Linked DNA regions of Homo sapiens. The protein of the gene in region 3 purifies or fractionates together with the protein of the main gene of each other region. This does not show direct contact. Each region holds a gene or a part of one and is shown on either strand. Other genes may lie near its edges. The genes, in order: VBP1, TXNDC9 and PEX7.

Region 1 (3,597 bases), on a different chromosome or scaffold from region 3:
CAAATATTTTCCCAAGACAACTTTATAACTGGTTAAATAGTTTAATTTCACAAGCATTTAAGGGTCTCCTATGTTCCTGCAACTGTGCTAAGACATATGGGGCATGAAAATCAATTTTAGAAAAGAGTGGCAGTGCCTTTCTCTGGTAGAACTGTACATGTAAAACAGCTGAATGATAATTCATAGCAAACTATAAGTAAGTTAACATATGCAACACCAAGGCAATTTAAACTTTGGGAAAGATAGATGTAGGCTGGACTTAGTTCAAAGAAGGCTTTGTTGAGAAGATAAAAGTTAGGCTGCTTTTTTAAAGGCGGCGTAGGGTTTAAAGATCAGCAGAGAGAAGAGGTGGGAGTGGGGTATTCTGGTCAAGGGGGAAGGCAAGCTCTTTGCCTTTCTTCTCTGGCCTGTCTTTTCCTCCTACTTCCTGTCACAGTCACTCAAGACAAAATCACGGGAGTCACCTTTCACACTTCTCTCTTCCTCACTACCAATAATAAATCAGTCGCCAGATTCACATCAAATTTCCCTCATAAATCTCTCTGCCCATTACTGTTCTCGTTCTGGGGCTCCAAAACCTGCACTCAGAACCTTTTTAGGTTCCTCTCATTCCATCTGTCCTTCCCACTATCTCTAGTATGAATTTACTAGGTCACTCATTTTTATTCCTCTGGTTACAATATTTCAACGGTTCCTTGTTACTTACAAGATATACATATAGGCACTCTTGTGAAGTGCCCCCAGCTTGTCTCACCTCATGCCACTGACCTCTTCTTGCCTTTCCCCAGTGCATTCCAGGTTCCAGATAACCCCAGTCAGTTATTGTACACACTCCCCAATTGTGCCACACCCTTTGCATTTCTACACTTTGTTCCTCCTAACTGGAATGACTTTCCCATATTTACAGGATGTGCTCTTTTTTTACCCTTTTACCCTAAATATCTCAGTCCAAGCATCAGAGCTTTCCTGAACATTTTCTGATCCTCAGAGTGTTTCTTGTGTGCTTGCTTAACACATACTGCTTAGTTTTACCTTGCCAAACCGTGAGCTCTTCAGATGTAGGAGCTGCACTTTCTCTTCTTTTCCAGTGTGCAGCATGTGGCAGTTGTTTATGGTTGGCTGAGGGAAGGCAGGCCTGTTGGGGCCTAGTGCAGTGGTCATCATCATCTGACGGGTAGTGTGGAAACTTCATCCAGCTATGAGATGACGAGGGCCTAGGACGGGTGGCTTGTGGAAAGGAAAAGATATTAAACGTGTGAGAAAAAAACAGGATCCAGTGACTTAGATGGGTACAGGAGCCAAAAGTGAGGAAATCCTCTAAGATGAGTCCTACAAGCTTAGTTAAATGCCATTTGTTATTGCTAGTACTGCAAAAGGTAGGAAAGGAAGGTGTGCAGACAAGTGAGGGAGCTAGGGTGGACAGTCTCTGTTACATTGACATTCTACTGGAGTCTAAGCTCCACGAGGAAAAGAACTTCACCTGTCTTATTCAGGTCAGGGCTTTGTACAGTGCCTAGTCAAAAATACAGTAGATGCTTAATAAACTTGTTAAGCCAAAGGGAGGGTAAGAGATAAAATTATTGATAATTGTAATAATATAAATATTACATGGCAGGATATGGGTTGAGTGATCTTTCAGATTTCTTGGATGAGGGACTGTCTTTAAAACTATCGAGAGTGTCTAGTACATATTTGTTAAATATATCATAGTTGACTAGCTGACAGTTGACTAATACCATAGTAAACAATGGGTTAACAATTAATTTGAGTCCTTAGTTTTGATAGAGTTTAATTATAGTATTTTCCTAACAATTGACATTATAGCAGGATGTCTTACAATACTATTTGTTACCAGTATTTGTATATGTTTCATTTCTGTGTCTTTGATTCATTGTGTGAGTGGAGTGAATACTTAGTCATTGCATGCATTATCTTTAGAATTGCATTTGCATTTTCTTTGACAATTCTTGCAGATATGGCCAGGGTTTATAATTGGGATGTAAAAAGAAGAAACAAGGATGACTCTACCAAGAACAAAGCATAATGCTGGCAATTAAAAATGTGGTTTAGTTTTCCAAACATGTTATCTTAAATACCCCTTTATCCTTACAGGTTGACATAACTTTGAATGTTTTAACAGCAAGAATTTTAAGAAAAGATAAACACCATTTTATTTATTTATAAAAACAAAATTAGTTTCAAATATTTTTGACATTGTGATTTTTTTTTCCACATTTCTCAGCAAAGCTAATGGTATTTTAATCATTATTTTTGCCTGTCATAAGAAAACTCTTAGCTGAAATGGCCGAAAACTGTGAGACATGCTATGGAAGCTGAATGCCGGACGCTAGCACAGTTTACTTTTTCCCTTTCTAATTGGCTGATGTTACTCTCACTTGATGTGGTTAAACCATTTTAGAGGTAGAGAAGACAGACAGTTTGAATATTTGTAAACTTGTTTTTCTTTGGTATATTTAGGACTTAGTGGTCCTCTGTTGCTATTGTCTTCTATAAGTGGAGTTTCATGACTTACTGCTTAACGAATAACTAACTACTATGATATTCTGGACATTTTAGGAAATGGTAATTTGCCTTGCTACACATTAAGAGGGCTATTAAGACTACATTTTTTCTAACCTCAGATAAGTGCAGTGTCTTTGCAATGCCAACATAAGGGAGATCTTGGCCAACGTGAAATAAAATTACTCATTCAAAACTCTGCCTAAGGTGATTTTGTAGTTCTTAACAGTTCTCCAGAGCATCTTGAACAGGAATATTAAGATAAATGTGAATCTGCAATGGCTGAAAAGAGTTGTGAGCTTTTTTATTCATGATAAAACCTTATAGGAATAGTATAAAAAATCCCTGTGGAAAGCTACTAGTACATTGACCAGCGCTGGGTGATACAGATTCTGATAAAAACATAAATGTATTAGTTCATCTCCATGTAGTAAAAAGTATACTTATACAATGTTTTGTACTTGTATTTCATGAAATTAAAACAGTGATGCTAAAACTATGGCAGAGCACTTTTTTCATGTTACTCTTTGTCTTACTATGTTTGGGCTGCTATAACAGAATACCACAGAGTGGGGGGCTTATAAACAGCAGAAATTTATCTCTCCCAGTTCTGGAGGCTGGGAAGTCCAAGATCAAGGTGCTGGCAGATTTGGTGTCTGGTAAGGGCTGTGTCCTGGTTCGTAAACGGCACCTTTTCACTGTGCCCTCATGTGGCAGAAGGGGCAAGGAGCTCCCTTGGGCCTCTTTAATTTGGCACTAATCTCATCATGAGGGCTCTGCCCTTATGACCTACTCACCTCCCAAAAGCCCCACCTCCTAATACCATCACCTTGGGGGTTAAGATTTTAACATAACAATTTTGGGGTGACACAAAGATTCAGACAATAACACCTTTTTAAAGTTAACATGGGTCTTTTCACGTATTTGTAAAGTTTACTTGTACATATACTAGCATGTTCCAAGAACAACTTATATTTCTAGAAACACCATAAAATCCCTGTGGAAGGAATACAGATCTGCAAACAATTGAGAAGTTCATTGAAAAGATAACAGAATTTCCTTGATTGAATTTTTCTT
Region 2 (3,656 bases), on a different chromosome or scaffold from region 3:
TACAAAAAATTAGCCGGGCATGGTGGCAGGCGCCTGTAGTCCCAGCTACTTGGGAGGCTGAGGCAGGAGAATGGCATGAACCAGGGAGGCGGAGCTTGCAGTGAGCCGAGCTTGTGCCACTGCACTCCAGCCTGGGGGACAGGGCAATACGCCACCTCCAAAAAAATAAAAAATAAAAAAGTTACTACTGGTATTTTTTAATTTCCTAGAAGCATAATGGCCACATTTATTTAAATATTATTAGTAACCCTTAGCCTTAATGTGCTTCTTACTGACAGCGTTGCATATTTAGGAGTAAGAAGTTTTTCCTCGGTAATGCTGTTCAGTTTTTCTTCATGACTTCCAAATATGGCACCATGTGTGCACTTCTGATTCTTGTAAGTCTCTTCCGAGTTTTGTCAAGTTTCAGTTTGTTCCTCTTCAAGTTTCCTGTGTAGGAGATAGGACAACTTCCTTTATGACTTAAAGCATATATTTAATATTTTAAAAGAGAATATCATTAATGCAAATCTGACTTTCTAGAATCTTATAGGCTGTTTTCCCATCTCGTAATCAGGCAGCTAACCTCTGATCTGGAAGTGAGGTCATCTGACACAAGTTTAAGTTGGCTGCCATGTTATGAGAGTCAACAGAAAAACTACATAATTAGATTTCCCTTGATGATATTTATTTTGAAAAAAGCGATCTGTGGTTTTAGCTTATAATTTTCTATGTGTGGTCACTTACAGGTGTAAAATACTAGACAGACATCTGGCAATATTGTCCAAGAAACACCTCGAGACCAAATTTTTGAAGCTGAATGTGGAAAAAGCACCTTTCCTTTGTGAGAGACTGCATATCAAAGTCATTCCCACACTAGCACTGCTAAAAGATGGGAAAACACAAGATTATGTTGTTGGGTTTACTGACCTAGGAAATACAGATGACTTCACCACAGAAACTTTAGAATGGAGGCTCGGTTCTTCTGACATTCTTAATTACAGGTAACTTTTAACAAAAGAAGAGATTGATTTTAATTCATATATAGTTGATATTTTTACAAAAGATTTTTGTATTGTAACATTTATTTTATGAAATTAAGGCATTTTGGCTGAGATGTGGAAAGTTTCTCAAAGGAAAAGCATGTTTTTTTGAAGTGTGTAATATTAGCGTGATTTTACGGCAAAATCAGATTTACAGATTAAACTGATTTAATAGGTAAAACTGAGTCTCACCGTACTCCTGACTATAAAAGTTTTCAGCTTAACGTATACTATTGACACTAATTTTGTATTAATCTGGAAACTTAAAATGGCAATCCAGTGTTGACTATTCCCCAATTTAAGCCAGATTGCTCAAATGAATTCTGACTTAAGTGATTCTCTTTGATAAAATAAAAATTAAAAGCAGACTCTTGCAAAGAAAGTTATATTTTAAAATACTAGATTTTTAACATGGATATTTCTGTTTTACTTATAGAGGCTGATGAATAGAAAAAGGTTTCTATGCCTAGCTTACATTGCTTGCTATGAAGAACAGTTTTAGTTTGAAAACAATCTAAAATCCAACTTCCATTTCTTTGTCCACTTCTTCAGACAAATAATTTATCTAATTCCACAAATCAGAGCATATCATCTTGTCTTTTTTGCCTTTTCTTGATTTGCAAAAGTAACAGGTAAAATTGTGCACTTACCATTCCAGAGTCATGGTGCCTTTCAGGAAGTAGAAGGTTCTCTCACGTTTTTCTTTCTCCCCCATTTCCCTCCCGTCTTTTCTCTGACTCTCCTAGACATGCCGAAATCATTCCTATGTTGTAGAAATTGGTTTCATTTCCTTAATATTAACATAAAATATTAATATTTATTAAATAAAGTTATATATTTTGAAGTAATTTTAAGCCTTAAACAAATTGCAGCCGGGTGGGGCACTTGTGTAATCTCAGAAGATTACAGACTTTGAGAGGCTGAGGTGGGAGAATCAGTTGAGGCCAGGAGTTTGAGACCAATTTGGGCAACATATAGTGAGATGAGACCTCGTCTCTACAAAAAACTAGTAGAAACAACCCCCTGCAGACTAGTACAACGAATCCTCATTGACCCTTTGCCCATATTACCCAATTTTAAACATTTTATATTTGTTTTATCATTGTCTTTATAGATACTATGAAGTATTTTGGGAACCATTTGAGTGGAAATTGTGAATACAGTGTCCCTTTACTCCTAAAGACTTCCATATATATTTTCTAAGAACAAGAACATTTTCTTACGTAGCGACAGTACAATTATTGAAACAGGAATTATTGTGTAATTTACCGCTCTTATTTCAAGTTTTCTCATTGTCCCAATAATTGTCCTTCATACCAAAAATGCAGCACATTTAGTTATTACGTCTTTAGTTACCATTGTTATTCTTTGGTTCTTAAGACTGATGTTTTTGAAGAGTACAAACTGTTTATTTTGGAGAACATCTCCCAGTTTGGGTTTGTCTTAAATTTCCTCAAGATTAGATTCAGATTATCGATTTTTGACGGGCATATTATGGAAGTGATGCATCATATCGGGAGGTGTGTGATGGTTTCTCTCATTTCCGGTGACAACTGAGCACTGTGTTAACCAAATGTTAATCCATAATTAATGATAAAAAGGAAAATAGGTCTGGTGCAGTGGCTCATACCTATAATCCCAGCACTTTGGGATGCCAAAGCAGGAGGATTGCTTGAGCCTAAGAGTTCAAGACAAGCCTGGGCAATGTAGTGAGATGTCATCACTACAAAAAATGTAAAAATTAACTGAGCATGGTGGCACACGCCTGTAGTCCAAGCTACTCGGGAGGCTGAGGTGGGAGGATCGCTTGAGCCCAGGAACTGGAGGTTGCAGTGAGCTGTGATCACACCACTGCACATCAGCCTGGGCCACAGAGTGAGACCCTGTCTCAAAAAGAAAGGAAAATAAAATTGATCTAAAACATTCAGTAGGACACAATAAGGTTTAAGGCTATTAACCATCAATATCAATATAAGCATTATACCTCTTCCCTGACACCAGCATTTTAAAGAAATTTTATTCTATGTTACAGGAAGAAAACAAAGATAGATTTTTGTGCAGTTTAGTATACTAGTACTAAATCATAAAGAATAAAATGCTTTTTTTTTTTTTTAAGTGGAAATTTAATGGAGCCACCATTTCAGAACCAAAAGAAATTTGGAACAAACTTCACAAAGCTGGAAAAGAAAACTATCCGAGGAAAGAAATATGATTCAGACTCTGATGATGATTAGAGCTCAATAATTCTTTGTAAATTGTCTTTTTTTTTCTGCTTCAGATTTAAATGTGTTTTTAAAATTCTATTAATGTCTATACATTGGTCACCTAAATACTCATATTCTCGAGTTTTATACAGTTGTATCACATCGAAAAGTGTCTTTACTGTTTTCTGTGTGGCCATCATGTTTAAGTTGAGGAAAACTCAGTTCTTAAATTATCTGGGAAGGGTCTGGATTCTCTATTTTTGAGATTGACTTTATCACAATATGATTCTTACATCTTTATACCATTTACAATTGTGTTTTAGATCTACAGAGTTAGAAATTCGAAAACTATTCCAGGACTAATTCTTAATCGGCATTATTTATACAAGAGGTCAAGTAACATTTACTAGCGCAATACTGCACTTGTAAA
Region 3 (3,656 bases):
TTTCTAAAAGTGTATAGTCACATGCATTCATGAAGAGATTATTTGAATTTGGAACTTATATTTAAAAGGGAAGCACAGCATAAAAGTTCAGAAAATTTGCAACCTAACCATGAGGTAGAAAAGAAAAACCTATTTCTTGGGGGGAAATTCAAACCTGCTGCAGAAATTTGTATAAGTAACAAGGAGCCAAATATTAATAGCCAAAACAATGGGAAAAATGTATCCAAGGCATGTCAGAGACATTTGCAGAAGCCCCTCCCATCACAGGCCCAGCGGCCTAGGAGGGAAAAATGGTTTTGTGGGCCTGAGTGGCCCTGCTGCTCTGTGCAGCCTCAAGACATGGTGCCCTGCATCCAGCTGCTCTAGCTCCAGCCATGGCTAAAAGGAGCCAAGGTACAGCTCAAGCCATTGCTTCTGAGGGTGCAAGCCCTAAACCTTGGCAGCTTCCATGTGGTGTTGGGTCTGTGGGTACACAGAAGACAAGAAGAGTTTAGAAGACAAGAGTTTAACCTCCACCTAAATTTCAGAGGATGTATGGAAACACCTGAATGTCCAGGCAGAAGTCTGCTGCAAGGGAGGAGCCCTCATGGAGAACCTTTGCTAGGGCAGTACAGAAGGAAAATGTGGGGTTGAAGGCCCCACACAGTCCCCACTGGGGCACTGCCTACTGGAGTTGTGAGGAGAGAGCCACTGTCCCCCAGGCCCCAGAAAGGTAGATTCACTGACAGCTTGTATTGTACAGCTGGAAAAGCCACAGGCACTCAATGCCAGCCAGTGAAAGCAGCCATAAGGACTGCACCTTTCAGAGCTACAAGGGTAGAGCTGCCCAAGGCCATGGGAGCCTACCCCTTGGATGTGAGATATGGAGTCAAAGGAGATCATTTCAGAGCTTTAAGATTTAGTAACTGCACTGCTGGGTTTCAGACTTGCATGGGGCCTGTGGCCCCTTTGTTTTGGCCAATTTCTCCCATTTGAAACATTTAGCTAATGCCTATAGCCCTACTGTATCTTAGAAGTAACTAACTTGTTTTTTATTTTATAGGCTCATAGGCAAAAGGGACTTGCCTTGTCTCAGATGAGACTTTGGACTTGGACTTTTGGGTTAATGCTGGAATAAGTTAAGACTTTGGGGGACTGTTGGAAAGTCATGATTGGTTTTGAAATGTGAAAAAGACATGAAATTTGGGAGGCGCCAGGAGTGGAATGATATGGTTTGGCTTTATATCCCCACCCAAATCTCATCTTGAATTGTAATCCCCATGTGTCCAGGGAGGAACCCGGTAGGAAGTGATCGGATCATGGGGGCAGTTTCCCCCATGCTGTTCTTGTGATAGTGAGGGAGTTCTCAAAAGATCTGATGGCTTTAAAAGTGGCAGTTTCCCCTGCTTTCTCTCTCTCTCTTTCTCTCTCTCCTGCTGCCTTGTGAAGAAGGTTATCTACTTCCCCTTCACCTTCTGCCATAATTTTAAGTTTCCTGAGGCCTCCCCAGTCATGTGGAACTGTGAGTCAATTAAACCTCTTTCCTTTATAAATTACCCACTCTCAGGTATTTCTTTATAACAATGTGAAAACAGACTAATACAATACCTATCATTATTGACTTCTCAGCTTCTATCATTATCAAAAAGTAAATAATTGATTCATTTTTTAAAGTAAACAAGATTTTAACTCTTGAAATGTATAAGCAAATACATTTCCTCCATAACAGAATACTAATAGTTGTATACTTAGGTCAAAAATAAGTTTTTATAAGCAATGCTCAAAAACCTCAATGGATCAAATATGTTATAAAAATTCAGCAAATTGATAAACCTTGTTATTTGACTATGAGAACAAATTTTAACTCATTTTTAAATTGTGATAAGCCAACTCATTAGTCTGAAAATTAGAAATTAATATATTACATTGATTTATGTCATCTTTAAAGTCACTTTAACTCACTCTCAGTAGCACAGTGTTTTAAGTCAGAAAGCAGTGAAATAAAATTGTCAATTCACTCTTATTTTTCTATTCTCACTGAACTTTTAAAAATTTTTATTATATATTCAGCAGCATTAGAATAAGCAAAGCCAAAGGCATTTTATGGGACTCAAAAGACATAATGACCTCTGCAGACACCAGTTAAACAATAGACAGAAGAATTTGATTCCTACTTCGATGCTAGGTTTAGCAACCATTCACACAGATAATGTCCATGTTTTTCTTTCTTTTCATTTCACCAAGACCTTCACTCCTCAAAGCCTAAAATATATCTAAATCTTGGATTTCTCTTTTTTGCTTCATCTGACAACTTGAAAATTGACTGTTGGACACATAGCCATCAAGTGGTAAAGTGGGTAACTGGAAAAGTTCTAACTTGTTTTACATTTTTCAAACCCTATTATAATAAGAGCAAATAATAATACTAGCTCATATTTATTCAATGCTGGTCTGTGATACAGACTACTAATAAACTTAGTTTGCAAATAAAAACACTCAAGTTTAGGAAAAATATGTGACATACGCAAGGTCTCACAACAGGTAACTTACAAAGCTGGGATTCAAATCCAAGATTGACTAAAACCATGCTATACGTCTTTATTATATACTCTCTTCCACAGAAGAAAATGACCCATTAGTTGCTCTTCTATTTCACAACACAGCTTCCCTGAACATACTGGTGGAAAAAAAAAAAACAGAAATTGGCTATGTTCATTATCAACTTTTTTTTTTAATAACTTTCTTTTAAGACAGGGTCTCACTCTGTTGTCCAGGCTGGAGTGCAATGGCACGAACTCAGCTCACTGCAACCTCCACCTCCCATGCTCAAATGATTCTTGTGCCTCAGCCACCAAATAGCTGGGACTACAGGTGTGCACCACCACACCCAGCTAATTTTTTTATTTTTAGTAGAGGCGGGGTTTTCGCCATGTTGGCCAGGCTGGTCCCAAACTCCTGGCCTTCAGTGATCTGCCCACCTCGACCTTCCAAAGTGTTAGGATTACAGGCATGACTCACTGCACTCAGCCTCATTTATTAATTTATTCAACAAATATTTACTAGCTCCTTAAAACTCTCATTTGAGCTTAAATCCTTTTAAGTATTTTTGAGTATCTGGCATATGCAATGGACTGAATATATCCCCACAAAACCCACATGTTGAAATCTTAACCCCCCAGTGTAATGGTTTTAGGACGTAGGGCCTCTGGGGGGTAATTAGGTCATGAATGTAGAGCCCTCATGAATGGGATTAGTGCTCTTATAAAAGGGATTTCCCAAACCTCTCTCATTCTCTTTCCACCACCTGCAGATACAATGAAAAGACAGCAGTAGTCTTTGACCTAAAAGAGGGCCCTCATCAGAACCCAAACATGTGGGCACCCTGACCTTGGACTTCCAACCTCCAGAATAGTAAGAAATAAATTTCTGTTCTTTATAAGGCACCCAGTCTATAATACTTTGTTACAGCAGCCTGAACAGACTGAGGCAGAAACTGGTGCCAAGAATTAGGGGTGCTGCTGTAACAAATACCTAAAAAGGTTATCTTCATTTATTTTTCACATAACCAAGCAAAATATGTGAAACAGTAAACTCTGACTGTTGAAGCCATTTAATTGTTTTCTATTACACTAACATTCAAGGCATCCTGATACAAACGCTTACCAAAAAGTGCATTT

What was found.
Region 1: the proteins of PEX7 (region 3) and VBP1 purify together in Homo sapiens (affinity purification with mass spectrometry; 3 studies listed by BioGRID and IntAct, with this or other methods). This does not show direct contact.
Region 2: the proteins of PEX7 (region 3) and TXNDC9 purify together in Homo sapiens (affinity purification with mass spectrometry; 3 studies listed by BioGRID and IntAct, with this or other methods). This does not show direct contact.

Annotation. Positions count from the first base shown.
Region 1 is NC_000023.11:155,236,799-155,240,395, forward strand, and holds the end of VBP1 (prefoldin subunit 3), read left to right. Parts: intron 1-1,973; coding exon 1,974-2,044; 3' UTR 2,045-3,043; downstream 3,044-3,597. UniProt on the Homo sapiens protein: Binds specifically to cytosolic chaperonin (c-CPN) and transfers target proteins to it. Binds to nascent polypeptide chain and promotes folding in an environment in which there are many competing pathways for nonnative proteins.
Region 2 is NC_000002.12:99,319,282-99,322,937, reverse strand, and holds part of TXNDC9 (thioredoxin domain-containing protein 9), read left to right. Parts: intron 1-728; coding exon 729-983; intron 984-1,154; exon of another isoform or gene 1,155-1,812; intron 1,813-3,138; coding exon 3,139-3,256; 3' UTR 3,257-3,656. UniProt on the Homo sapiens protein: Significantly diminishes the chaperonin TCP1 complex ATPase activity, thus negatively impacts protein folding, including that of actin or tubulin.
Region 3 is NC_000006.12:136,829,007-136,832,662, reverse strand, and holds part of PEX7 (peroxisomal biogenesis factor 7), read right to left. Parts: intron 1-3,656. UniProt on the Homo sapiens protein: Receptor required for the peroxisomal import of proteins containing a C-terminal PTS2-type peroxisomal targeting signal. Specifically binds to cargo proteins containing a PTS2 peroxisomal targeting signal in the cytosol.